2 separate regions of the Homo sapiens genome follow, and region 1 is linked to region 2. Evidence: fine-mapped QTL for protein levels in blood plasma. A gene starts in region 2. The other region holds a variant in brackets. All regions are shown on one strand. Distances are between the middles of the regions.

Region 1 (3,339 bases), 68 kb after region 2:
ATGTGACAACCACCCCATCTGTGCAGTACATAAATGGGAAGCATCTCGTTACCACTGTGCCCAAGGACCCAGAAGCTGCAGAAGCTAGGCGTGGCCAGTTTGAAAGTGTTGCACCTTCTCAGAATTTCTCGGACAGCTCTGAAAGTGATACTCATCCATTTGTAATAGCCAAAACGGAATTGTCTACTGCTGTGCAACCTAATGAATCTACAGAAACAACTGAGTCTCTTGAAGTTACATGGAAGCCTGAGACTTACCCTGAAACATCAGAACATTTTTCAGGTGGTGAGCCTGATGTTTTCCCCACAGTCCCATTCCATGAGGAATTTGAAAGTGGAACAGCCA[A/G]AAAAGGGGCAGAATCAGTCACAGAGAGAGATACTGAAGTTGGTCATCAGGCACATGAACATACTGAACCTGTATCTCTGTTTCCTGAAGAGTCTTCAGGAGAGATTGCCATTGACCAAGAATCTCAGAAAATAGCCTTTGCAAGGGCTACAGAAGTAACATTTGGTGAAGAGGTAGAAAAAAGTACTTCTGTCACATACACTCCCACTATAGTTCCAAGTTCTGCATCAGCATATGTTTCAGAGGAAGAAGCAGTTACCCTAATAGGAAATCCTTGGCCAGATGACCTGTTGTCTACCAAAGAAAGCTGGGTAGAAGCAACTCCTAGACAAGTTGTAGAGCTCTCAGGGAGTTCTTCGATTCCAATTACAGAAGGCTCTGGAGAAGCAGAAGAAGATGAAGATACAATGTTCACCATGGTAACTGATTTATCACAGAGAAATACTACTGATACACTCATTACTTTAGACACTAGCAGGATAATCACAGAAAGCTTTTTTGAGGTTCCTGCAACCACCATTTATCCAGTTTCTGAACAACCTTCTGCAAAAGTGGTGCCTACCAAGTTTGTAAGTGAAACAGACACTTCTGAGTGGATTTCCAGTACCACTGTTGAGGAAAAGAAAAGGAAGGAGGAGGAGGGAACTACAGGTACGGCTTCTACATTTGAGGTATATTCATCTACACAGAGATCGGATCAATTAATTTTACCCTTTGAATTAGAAAGTCCAAATGTAGCTACATCTAGTGATTCAGGTACCAGGAAAAGTTTTATGTCCTTGACAACACCAACACAGTCTGAAAGGGAAATGACAGATTCTACTCCTGTCTTTACAGAAACAAATACATTAGAAAATTTGGGGGCACAGACCACTGAGCACAGCAGTATCCATCAACCTGGGGTTCAGGAAGGGCTGACCACTCTCCCACGTAGTCCTGCCTCTGTCTTTATGGAGCAGGGCTCTGGAGAAGCTGCTGCCGACCCAGAAACCACCACTGTTTCTTCATTTTCATTAAACGTAGAGTATGCAATTCAAGCCGAAAAGGAAGTAGCTGGCACTTTGTCTCCGCATGTGGAAACTACATTCTCCACTGAGCCAACAGGACTGGTTTTGAGTACAGTAATGGACAGAGTAGTTGCTGAAAATATAACCCAAACATCCAGGGAAATAGTGATTTCAGAGCGATTAGGAGAACCAAATTATGGGGCAGAAATAAGGGGCTTTTCCACAGGTTTTCCTTTGGAGGAAGATTTCAGTGGTGACTTTAGAGAATACTCAACAGTGTCTCATCCCATAGCAAAAGAAGAAACGGTAATGATGGAAGGCTCTGGAGATGCAGCATTTAGGGACACCCAGACTTCACCATCTACAGTACCTACTTCAGTTCACATCAGTCACATATCTGACTCAGAAGGACCCAGTAGCACCATGGTCAGCACTTCAGCCTTCCCCTGGGAAGAGTTTACATCCTCAGCTGAGGGCTCAGGTGAGCAACTGGTCACAGTCAGCAGCTCTGTTGTTCCAGTGCTTCCCAGTGCTGTGCAAAAGTTTTCTGGTACAGCTTCCTCCATTATCGACGAAGGATTGGGAGAAGTGGGTACTGTCAATGAAATTGATAGAAGATCCACCATTTTACCAACAGCAGAAGTGGAAGGTACGAAAGCTCCAGTAGAGAAGGAGGAAGTAAAGGTCAGTGGCACAGTTTCAACAAACTTTCCCCAAACTATAGAGCCAGCCAAATTATGGTCTAGGCAAGAAGTCAACCCTGTAAGACAAGAAATTGAAAGTGAAACAACATCAGAGGAACAAATTCAAGAAGAAAAGTCATTTGAATCCCCTCAAAACTCTCCTGCAACAGAACAAACAATCTTTGATTCACAGACATTTACTGAAACTGAACTCAAAACCACAGATTATTCTGTACTAACAACAAAGAAAACTTACAGTGATGATAAAGAAATGAAGGAGGAAGACACTTCTTTAGTTAACATGTCTACTCCAGATCCAGATGCAAATGGCTTGGAATCTTACACAACTCTCCCTGAAGCTACTGAAAAGTCACATTTTTTCTTAGCTACTGCATTAGTAACTGAATCTATACCAGCTGAACATGTAGTCACAGATTCACCAATCAAAAAGGAAGAAAGTACAAAACATTTTCCGAAAGGCATGAGACCAACAATTCAAGAGTCAGATACTGAGCTCTTATTCTCTGGACTGGGATCAGGAGAAGAAGTTTTACCTACTCTACCAACAGAGTCAGTGAATTTTACTGAAGTGGAACAAATCAATAACACATTATATCCCCACACTTCTCAAGTGGAAAGTACCTCAAGTGACAAAATTGAAGACTTTAACAGAATGGAAAATGTGGCAAAAGAAGTTGGACCACTCGTATCTCAAACAGACATCTTTGAAGGTAGTGGGTCAGTAACCAGCACAACATTAATAGAAATTTTAAGTGACACTGGAGCAGAAGGACCCACGGTGGCACCTCTCCCTTTCTCCACGGACATCGGACATCCTCAAAATCAGACTGTCAGGTGGGCAGAAGAAATCCAGACTAGTAGACCACAAACCATAACTGAACAAGACTCTAACAAGAATTCTTCAACAGCAGAAATTAACGAAACAACAACCTCATCTACTGATTTTCTGGCTAGAGCTTATGGTTTTGAAATGGCCAAAGAATTTGTTACATCAGCACCAAAACCATCTGACTTGTATTATGAACCTTCTGGAGAAGGATCTGGAGAAGTGGATATTGTTGATTCATTTCACACTTCTGCAACTACTCAGGCAACCAGACAAGAAAGCAGCACCACATTTGTTTCTGATGGGTCCCTGGAAAAACATCCTGAGGTGCCAAGCGCTAAAGCTGTTACTGCTGATGGATTCCCAACAGTTTCAGTGATGCTGCCTCTTCATTCAGAGCAGAACAAAAGCTCCCCTGATCCAACTAGCACACTGTCAAATACAGTGTCATATGAGA
Region 2 (8,000 bases):
ATATTTTAATAGGAGCAAGCATTAGTCCTGCAATTCTTTTTGTCAATAGAATAAAAATGGAATGTATGCTTGCTGCTTCTACATGCCGGTTGATACCCATGCTGAACACTTTTCTTACAACACAGAGGTTTCCTTGTTTTCTGTCTTGCGTTCTACCTTTGCTCACCACAGAGACATTAATGATGCCATGTGTCTTTTTGCACCATCAGTGCAGCAGCTTTCATTATGCTCCTTGTCTCGGTCCCACTGTAGTCTAATTAAATAAATGGAAACGGGTAGTCACTGAAAATAAACAGCAACTGCAAAAGTTTTGCCTCTTAAGAAACCTTCTGCATTGTATTCCGCCCTGCCTCATTGATTCTAAGATCTCTACCGCTTCCTTGTGTTCAGAAACCAGACTCTTCAGTTTGTCTTGCTTCAGTCAGACAAATGCTTTATAAAAATGACCTATATTTTTCAGACTGTGGGGAGAGAAGAAAAAGACTTTGAGAAAGTGACTAAGGAGGGAGTAAGAGTGATACAATCTTTGATTCAATTTAGTTGGACTGTGTTCTTTATGCCTTCATCTTTTTCTTTATAAAAAAGATAGCGTTTTTGATGCTCTGCTCCAGGCAGCCTCCCAGGGTGAGTGCAGATGTGCTGAGCCATTTGGCTGCCTTGAGGACCGGCTCAGAGAGCCTCTCTTCTCACTAATGAAGTCATCTCCTCTCGGCAGCCCGGCCTCTCCCATCACTCCATGTTGGAACTTGGCTTTGGCTTGCATAGTTCTGTCGTGATGTAGATGGTCTTTCAGTTAAGTTCTAGAGAAATCTGCTCAACCATGAACAGGACATTTACAGCACAGGAGAAAAAAAAATTTATTAAAACAAATATTTTACTGTAACATTTTGATTTGGGGGTTGGAGAGCAAAAACTCAATATCTGATGTCTGGGAAAAATCTAATGTTTTATGGCTTTCTAAGGAAATTTGTCTGTGTTTAATTTATCAGAGCAATTTATATACTTCGGGTTAAAGCACAATGAGATTGCCACCATCACTTTGCCTTTTGCAAGATTTCTTTTTTAAGAATAAAAAGAAGGCAATAAAGACCTTGTATTTCTGCCTTTCCTAGAAAGCCAAAGAGAATTCAAAGTGCTGGATGAAATGTCTGTCCCTAATTTGCAGTGTTTTATTTAAAAAAAAAATTATGACACAATCTTAGAGGATAGGCTTCCTTTTTCCAGGGTCTTTGAAAGTTAAAAGTACATTTTTAATCTGTAGCATTACTGTATCATCCAGTGAGGATAATTTGCTTAGTTGTGCCTAGGACCAGTCAGATCAAGGAGTTGAAACTAAGCTCTTTCTGAATTTGAATGGGACTGGAATCTTGTCATCCCTAGAGCAGCAATAGATGATGCCATGTCTAAGAACACTTCACCTGATCAATAAAAAAGGAGAAGTCTGAAATGTAATCCTAAAGAACCTCAGAAGGAGGTTTAGATGAAGATAATAAAATTCCCTGGAGACACATCTGCCATCTACACCTTTCCTCTCCAAGTCATTGGCTTGCTGCCCCTGAGCTCAGCCAAATTCCCAAAGACAAGATCAAAGCAAGGAAGCAAGGCACATAGCTTCTGGCTTATGGTTTCTTTTAGACACAAGCATTGTGAATGAAGATCTTGCTTTATTTATACCTGGGATCTTGGAGTTTTCACAAAGAATATCCCCAGTACAAGGATGTGATTTAAAGGGGGACTCACAGAATAATATTTTAATTACTGTTTGATTCATACTTGAGTGTAATGGACAAATAAATACAATTTTAGTTATAAAACCTGAAAAATATATATTTTCCCATTCAAAAACTTCTGATAGTTTTGTCAGGCATTGGAGAATCAGAAATAAATGCTCTCTCATTTTCTTTCTCTTGATGAAGGAAAGTCATTAAAAACAGTTACATAGAAATAATAATACAACTGTAGACTCTATTCTAAATATAGCTGGTATGTTTTCCTTTTTCTTTTTTATCCATTCTCCATTTTAGACAGCTAGAGGGGAAAGTCTGCCCTAGAGATAGAAAGAAGATATCCATGGGGTATAATTTCATTTTAGTTATCTGATAGCCTGAAGAAGTATTTAATTTTCTGAATAATAATGTTACAAGTCAAAGAAGAGAAAAGACAGGCAGTTTAAAGCTTTTCAACATTGTGCATATTCTAATTCCTTAAGTCAGCCCTGAGAAAGTGCCTTTGTCCTGTAGAAGTATTTGGTCAAGTGTTGTGAAGTCTATTGGCATTAAAAGAAACTAAAAATTTTGGAGGATTAGAGAATCAAATTTGGCAACATAAATGAAAACATCTCAGAATGTAAAAAGTATCTAACCCATCACTTTCAATCATGTTCCATTATATACAGATGGCATTATTTATAGTGAATGTTAACTATTAACATTTCCCTAAAAATGGGCATTAATCTGCTATTAGTTGCTTGTTTCTGATCTAGTTCTCCTTTGTTGAAAGGTTTTACTTAACTGTATCATAAAGGGACAAAAGGGTAAAAGATAATAAGCTTTTCAGACTGGCAGATCTGTCACTTACAAAATGGCCTTGGGCAGGTTACTTGAACTCTTTGAAACTCAACTAGATTTACTCAAATTTAAGAATGAGAATACAAATCCACATCTTGAAGTGTTTCACAGAAAGGTCTATCTTAATGTCTGGAGTATATATTTCAATGAACATTCATTTTATTTTATTTCTCTCCATTCCTGAATCAAGCAATCTTGAATCTAAAGTTGCTATGATTAGCACTGAAAAGACCACTGGACTATTAATTGTGTGACTTTGGGACAGTAACTTTCTGCACCTTAGTTTGTTTACATGTTATACATGAAGGTTGAAGTCTGATTCTGCTCTGTGACTATCATTCTAAACATCTGATGAAATCAAATTTCAGTGTTTGGAATGGTAGTACAATAAATTTACTAAGAATAAATAATTCACTGCAAAAACACATTGATTTCCAAATGATGTAACTGACAGTTATATTACTGCAGAGGGCTGATAAATAACAAAAGAAATGAAAGATGCACATGGTGAGAACTGAAATTATCCTGACAAGTCTTCTACCTGTTTATCACTTAAAATCAATGACCATGCTGAATGCCTACAAATTACAAAATATAAAAGAAATCTTATAAATGCGCATGTACAGGAGTCTAAGTTACTAAAAGTTTTAAAGCATAAGTTTAAACCAAACTAATCAAAGAAGTTGAGAGGAAAAATTGGCTTTCATCTTTAATCACTACTGTTTTGAGGTCCTATGTTTAATATAATTTTCTAAGTAGAGGCTTCAGAGAGAAGAGTTGTGAGGATACTTTCATATTTGTGTAGAAGGAAAAGTTTGCCATCCATTCTAGTATCCCTAGTGTTATACTGATGTGCACCTTGGATTTATTTTGTTCCTATTGTATAAACTCATACTTGACTTCAAAGAAAAGGAAAATCCAAAGTCCCTCTTTTCTAAGGGGACAGAAATCCTTTGTGTCAACTGTTTGACCCTTTTCTCTGTAAGGTCCTATTGGAAATCTTTTGTAACACAATGCAGGGGACTCTTCCATGTGTTGATGCTGTTTACACAGTGGGGTGGGCCTGACTGAAGAAAAAAAATCGCATATACGCATGAAAGATTATGGTCTTATTTCCGGAAAGCATGAAAGGTGATTGATACTTCCAAGAAGTCCCTGTTACTCAGGAAAATTATCAAATATTCTACTCAGAGATACTTGGAAAGACTGAAGGAAAGGAAGAACGAAGAAAGCAGAATCTAGACTTATGTGGGGAGAGATTTGTGGCAGAGGAAAAGTATTCTCTTTGAATCCGACAAGGGATTTGCCTGGGGGAATTTCCTGTCCAGCCTTTTATTACCAGGGTCTTTTGAAGCCGGGCTCCCCATTGGGCAGTTCCCTGGGAGTGCAGTGGGGAATTCTTACACTTTCCCTCTAGGTCCCCGAAGGATCTCGTTTTCTCAGTGTCTCTTTCAGGTTGGCAGGAGCCTTGAGCCTGACACTTCCCTTTGATGGGACAGGCAAGCTCTGTGGGCGCGTAAACACGCTGTAACCAAGTTCTTTGCTGATTTTACAGTTTTGTGTGCTCCCGAGAAGAAGTGATCGTACTCAATTGTCTATTGCTGGCCTGCCCCCTAAGAGCCTGGGGGCTCCTTTCCCCTAACCCAGAACTAGCTGCACGGGGGGCGGGGAAATGGGGGTGGGGAAGGAGTGGGAGGGCAGTGGTTTCCGCGAGCAGAGCGATGTTACTGAGTGAGTCCCTGAATGGGGAGCGCTGCTGTCCCCAAGCCGATTGGTACTTCTTGTCAGGAAGAAACGCCAAGAGGTGGGAGTGCCTGGGGAGGGAGGCAGGCGGTCCCTACCGCAGGCGCGGGGAGCTGCCTTTCCGCCCCTCCGCCTGCTTTCCAAGCCTGGACTCTTAGGAGTGGCTGAAGCTGCGGAGCGCTTTTGGAGCCTGTGAATGAACCCTCCTCCTCTCCCTCCTCCTTCTTCTCGCTGAGTCTCCTCCTCGGCTCTGACGGTACAGTGATATAATGATGATGGGTGTCACAACCCGCATTTGAACTTGCAGGCGAGCTGCCCCGAGCCTTTCTGGGGAAGAACTCCAGGCGTGCGGACGCAACAGCCGAGAACATTAGGTGTTGTGGACAGGAGCTGGGACCAAGATCTTCGGCCAGCCCCGCATCCTCCCGCATCTTCCAGCACCGTCCCGCACCCTCCGCATCCTTCCCCGGGCCACCACGCTTCCTATGTGACCCGCCTGGGCAACGCCGAACCCAGTCGCGCAGCGCTGCAGTGAATTTTCCCCCCAAACTGCAATAAGCCGCCTTCCAAGGTAATCACGTTTCTTTTGTTCCCCCCTTAAAAAACAAAAACAAAAAACTTATAGAAAAAAACCCGCGAGCTTAGAAAAAAGAAGCAATTGGTAGAAGGCTTTAATTAAGGCAAAGAGCTGTAAGGCGAAGTTAAGAAAATGTAGGCACTTAAAAAATGCAGGTAACTTTCATAAGGGCTTTTGGGGAGAGGCATACAGAGGGACCTTGGTGTTGAAAAAGATTCAGACAAAAGAAACCCAGGGTGGGGTGGGGGGTAAAATGACTAACGGAATTGGGGGAAGGGAGGGAATAAATTGTAAAGAAATCATAGAAAAGTGGTGGGTTCTTGAGCTGGAGAGAAGAGAGGGACCTTTGGCACTTTGATTTTTTTGTTGTTGTTGTTCTTAACACGCTCGAGGCAAAAGTTTGAATGGGGACTACCAAGACTTGCCACAGACAAGTCCCCGAAGCCGCCTTGGTGCAGGCCACCTGGTTTCCCAGCCCCTGGTGTGTGGTCAGTGCCTGGTGTTCCTGGAAAGCCACTCCCGGGCAGCTCCTGACAGTGCGACCCGGCGCCCAAGCAGCCTGGGACCTTGCGCGGACCTGACCCCTTCAGACCGCAGGCAGTCTGGGAGGAGGTCCGGCCGGGGGAGGTGCAGGATCCCCGCCGTGTCTCTTTGACGACTTGGGGACTGTCACGGTTCTCTCCCGGCGCCCCTGGGTTCTTTTGTCCTGCACGCGGTGCGAAGGGGCCAGCAGGGAAGGAGCAGAGGATGGGGGGTGGGGTTGTTGGAGCCCCGCGGAGGTCTGGGAGGCCCCTGGGCGGGAAAAGCCTGTTCTGAATCGGCAGGGATGTGCAACAATTTTTCTCACCCTGAAGAGTGAAATAGGGTCTGTCGCTCCCATCTCAACAAGCAAACCGGCACCCAGAGCGCACTGCAGACAAAGGTGGCTCGGGGACCCGAATCAGGGGCCTCTGGGTCAGTCCTCTCGCCCAGACTACAGGAGTCCTCCGTTTCCTTACATATTCCCCACCCTCTCCTAGTTCTCCGCTCTAGTTGAGCAACTTTACTGGCAGGTCTAGCGGCAGCGGCGCGCGCGTGTGCCGGGAGCCCCGGGGGACGTCCTCGGCTGGAGCGCCCCACCGTCCTGCAGAGGCGTGGGCGCTGTAGGGCGACATCCCTGGTGCGTGCAGACCTAGGGCATCCGGGTTGTTCTGGCCCGCGGTCTGTGTCACTGGGCGTGGAGCGGTCTGGGTGTTAGGCAGAGGAGAGCGGGGTAGAAAAATAGTGTCATAGCCTAAACTATTTGCTCTCCAATCCAACTGCGTCTCGGCAAGTCCTGCATGTCCCTGGGAGATGCTGCGGGAAGGGGGAGAAATCTACACGGCGCCTGGAGAGTTGTCCTGCCGCGCGCACACCCGCGGCAGAGTCTCTCTGGGTCGCGTTCCTCATCTTTGTGTCTCCCTCTGTCTCCATCTTCTCTGCCTCCCTTCCCCTCTCCCAGCCTCTGTTCTCTCTCTCTAGCTTCTGCGTCCCCTCCCCCACAGCTGACAAATGAATGGCTAGTGTGAAATCCCTGCCTTTCCCGTGCTCCAAGGCAGCAGGGAGGGAGGAGCGAGGGAGGCGGTGCGCTCCTTCGGATCTGCCCCCAGTTCAGCTCACAAGACTTGCAGAACCTAGATGTCTAGGAATTGGGAGTTTTGCGGCGGGTGTGGGCGCCCCCTGATGGAGAAGTCCCGCACAGGCGGAGAAAAACAAGCCCCCCAGACCAAGCGAGCATCTTTCACAACCTTGTGTTCAAGGATGGAAGGCCCTAGTTTTCCCTTAAGTCATTCATTTTGCACTCCACAATCTGCGGCGTACATCTAGGAGTTTGGAGGACCCTGAAAAAAGGTCTTGGTCTGTGCAAAGTGCAGAGATGCCTTCTCGCGAGTCGGCTGGAACGCACGCGGCGCCCTGGGTCCAGTTCGCCGCTTAGTGGACGAACGCACATGGCCAGGGTGGAGCCAGGTTTCGGAGGTCTAGACGCGCCACCCTGGGCGTCTTTAAGAAAGATAATACACATACCGTGCTCTCAAAACCCATGACCACTTGAACCCAACGCTAGGGCCCCGCCCCAGGATATTGCAAAAGAAGGGCTCCTAATCCAAAACTTAAACTTCCTCAACTTCAGGGCGGGCGTCGGACGGGAAAGTGGAGAGAAGGCGGGCAGTGGGAGGAAAAAAGAAAGGGAAGGAAGGGAAGTGGAAGGAAAGAGGACCGTGGAGGGGAGGAAAAGGAGAAAGGAACGGAGATGGGGCAGATGGCATTCAAACAGCCAGGAACGGACCGGAAGGGTTCGTTTCGGGGTTTGGGTCTGAATTTCGAGACTCGTTTTAGGATACTCTTTTCCCTTTCCCAGCGGCAACAAATGTGACTGCAGAGGCGTGCCGGGATGGAAGGGTGGGAAAGAACTAGACAAGCGGAGGTGGTCCAGCCCCGCCCAAAGGGGCTGGGTCTGGGGCCCGCCCCCACTCGCTCACCTCGCGCCAAGGGAGGACCCGCAACGGGCGCTCCCCGCAGCGGCTGGGTTAGCCAGCCGCCACGTGGGTTGGCGCTTCGGCTCCCAGCCGAGACGGGTGTGACTTCCTGGGCTCAGAGACTGCAGTACAGCCGCACAGGCGGCCGGCGCAGCCGAGGCCCCCACCCACCGAGGCCAATGGGGGCGGGGCGGGGAAGGCAGGGCCCAGCTTAACCGAGAGAGCCGAGTGGCCTCGCCCCCAGGATTCGGGGCCGGCTGCTTCTGGAGCTGACCCGAGTTCCATCCAGACAGCGCTGAACACTCTTATTAAAAGGCTATTTAAGTTTTATTTTATTTTATTTTATTTTTGCTTGCTTCTTGGGAGTGGTAGGAGGGGCATCGTGCTTTTGTTTTGAGGCAGGGGAGAGGTTAAAATTTACTCCAAGCAAACTTTTTGTCAGAAAAATGAGACTTTATACCGTATTCCATTTGTTGACTTTTTAAATACATTCAGGTCACTCTAAAGCCCATTCTTAGTCAATTAACAGATTAATTTCGTTCCAGACTGTCATAAAGAGTTCGCCTGGAATGGCAAATACTGCCATTCGACAAGACTAATAGAATTTCATGGGGGCAA

Direction of the effects. Alleles are on the strand shown, and positions count from the first base shown. The strength of an association depends on the size of the effect and on how common the allele is.
For the plasma level of the protein whose gene starts at base 4,602 in region 2, G is the low allele of the variant in region 1 and A is the other (strong association).

Evidence for each region. PIP is the chance, under the fine-mapping model, that this variant and not a neighbour inherited with it causes the effect. The UK Biobank Pharma Proteomics Project read protein levels with antibody pairs (Olink). The fine-mapping took linkage between variants from a reference panel, not from the people measured, so its PIPs are less certain.
Region 1: its variant is fine-mapped to the plasma level of the VCAN protein (UK Biobank, PIP 0.97). The variant lies in the coding sequence of VCAN. If it changes the protein, the assay may bind it differently, which can mimic a change of level.

What each region holds. Positions count from the first base shown.
Region 1 is chr5:83,537,205-83,540,543 of GRCh38, forward strand. It overlaps VCAN (versican), which reads left to right. Exons shown (of 15, transcript NM_004385.5): 8 at 1-3,339. All of the region lies in intron 1 of VCAN-AS1 (VCAN antisense RNA 1), which reads right to left. Among named protein-coding and RNA genes, the nearest start is that of VCAN-AS1, 23 kb to the right of the region's middle. The variant A/G (reference allele first, on the strand shown) is at 346.
Region 2 is chr5:83,467,143-83,475,142 of GRCh38, forward strand. VCAN (versican) reads left to right here and starts at 4,602. Exons shown (of 15, transcript NM_004385.5): 1 at 4,602-4,881. RefSeq lists an enhancer at 5,031-5,903 and silencers at 7,336-7,425, 7,456-7,675.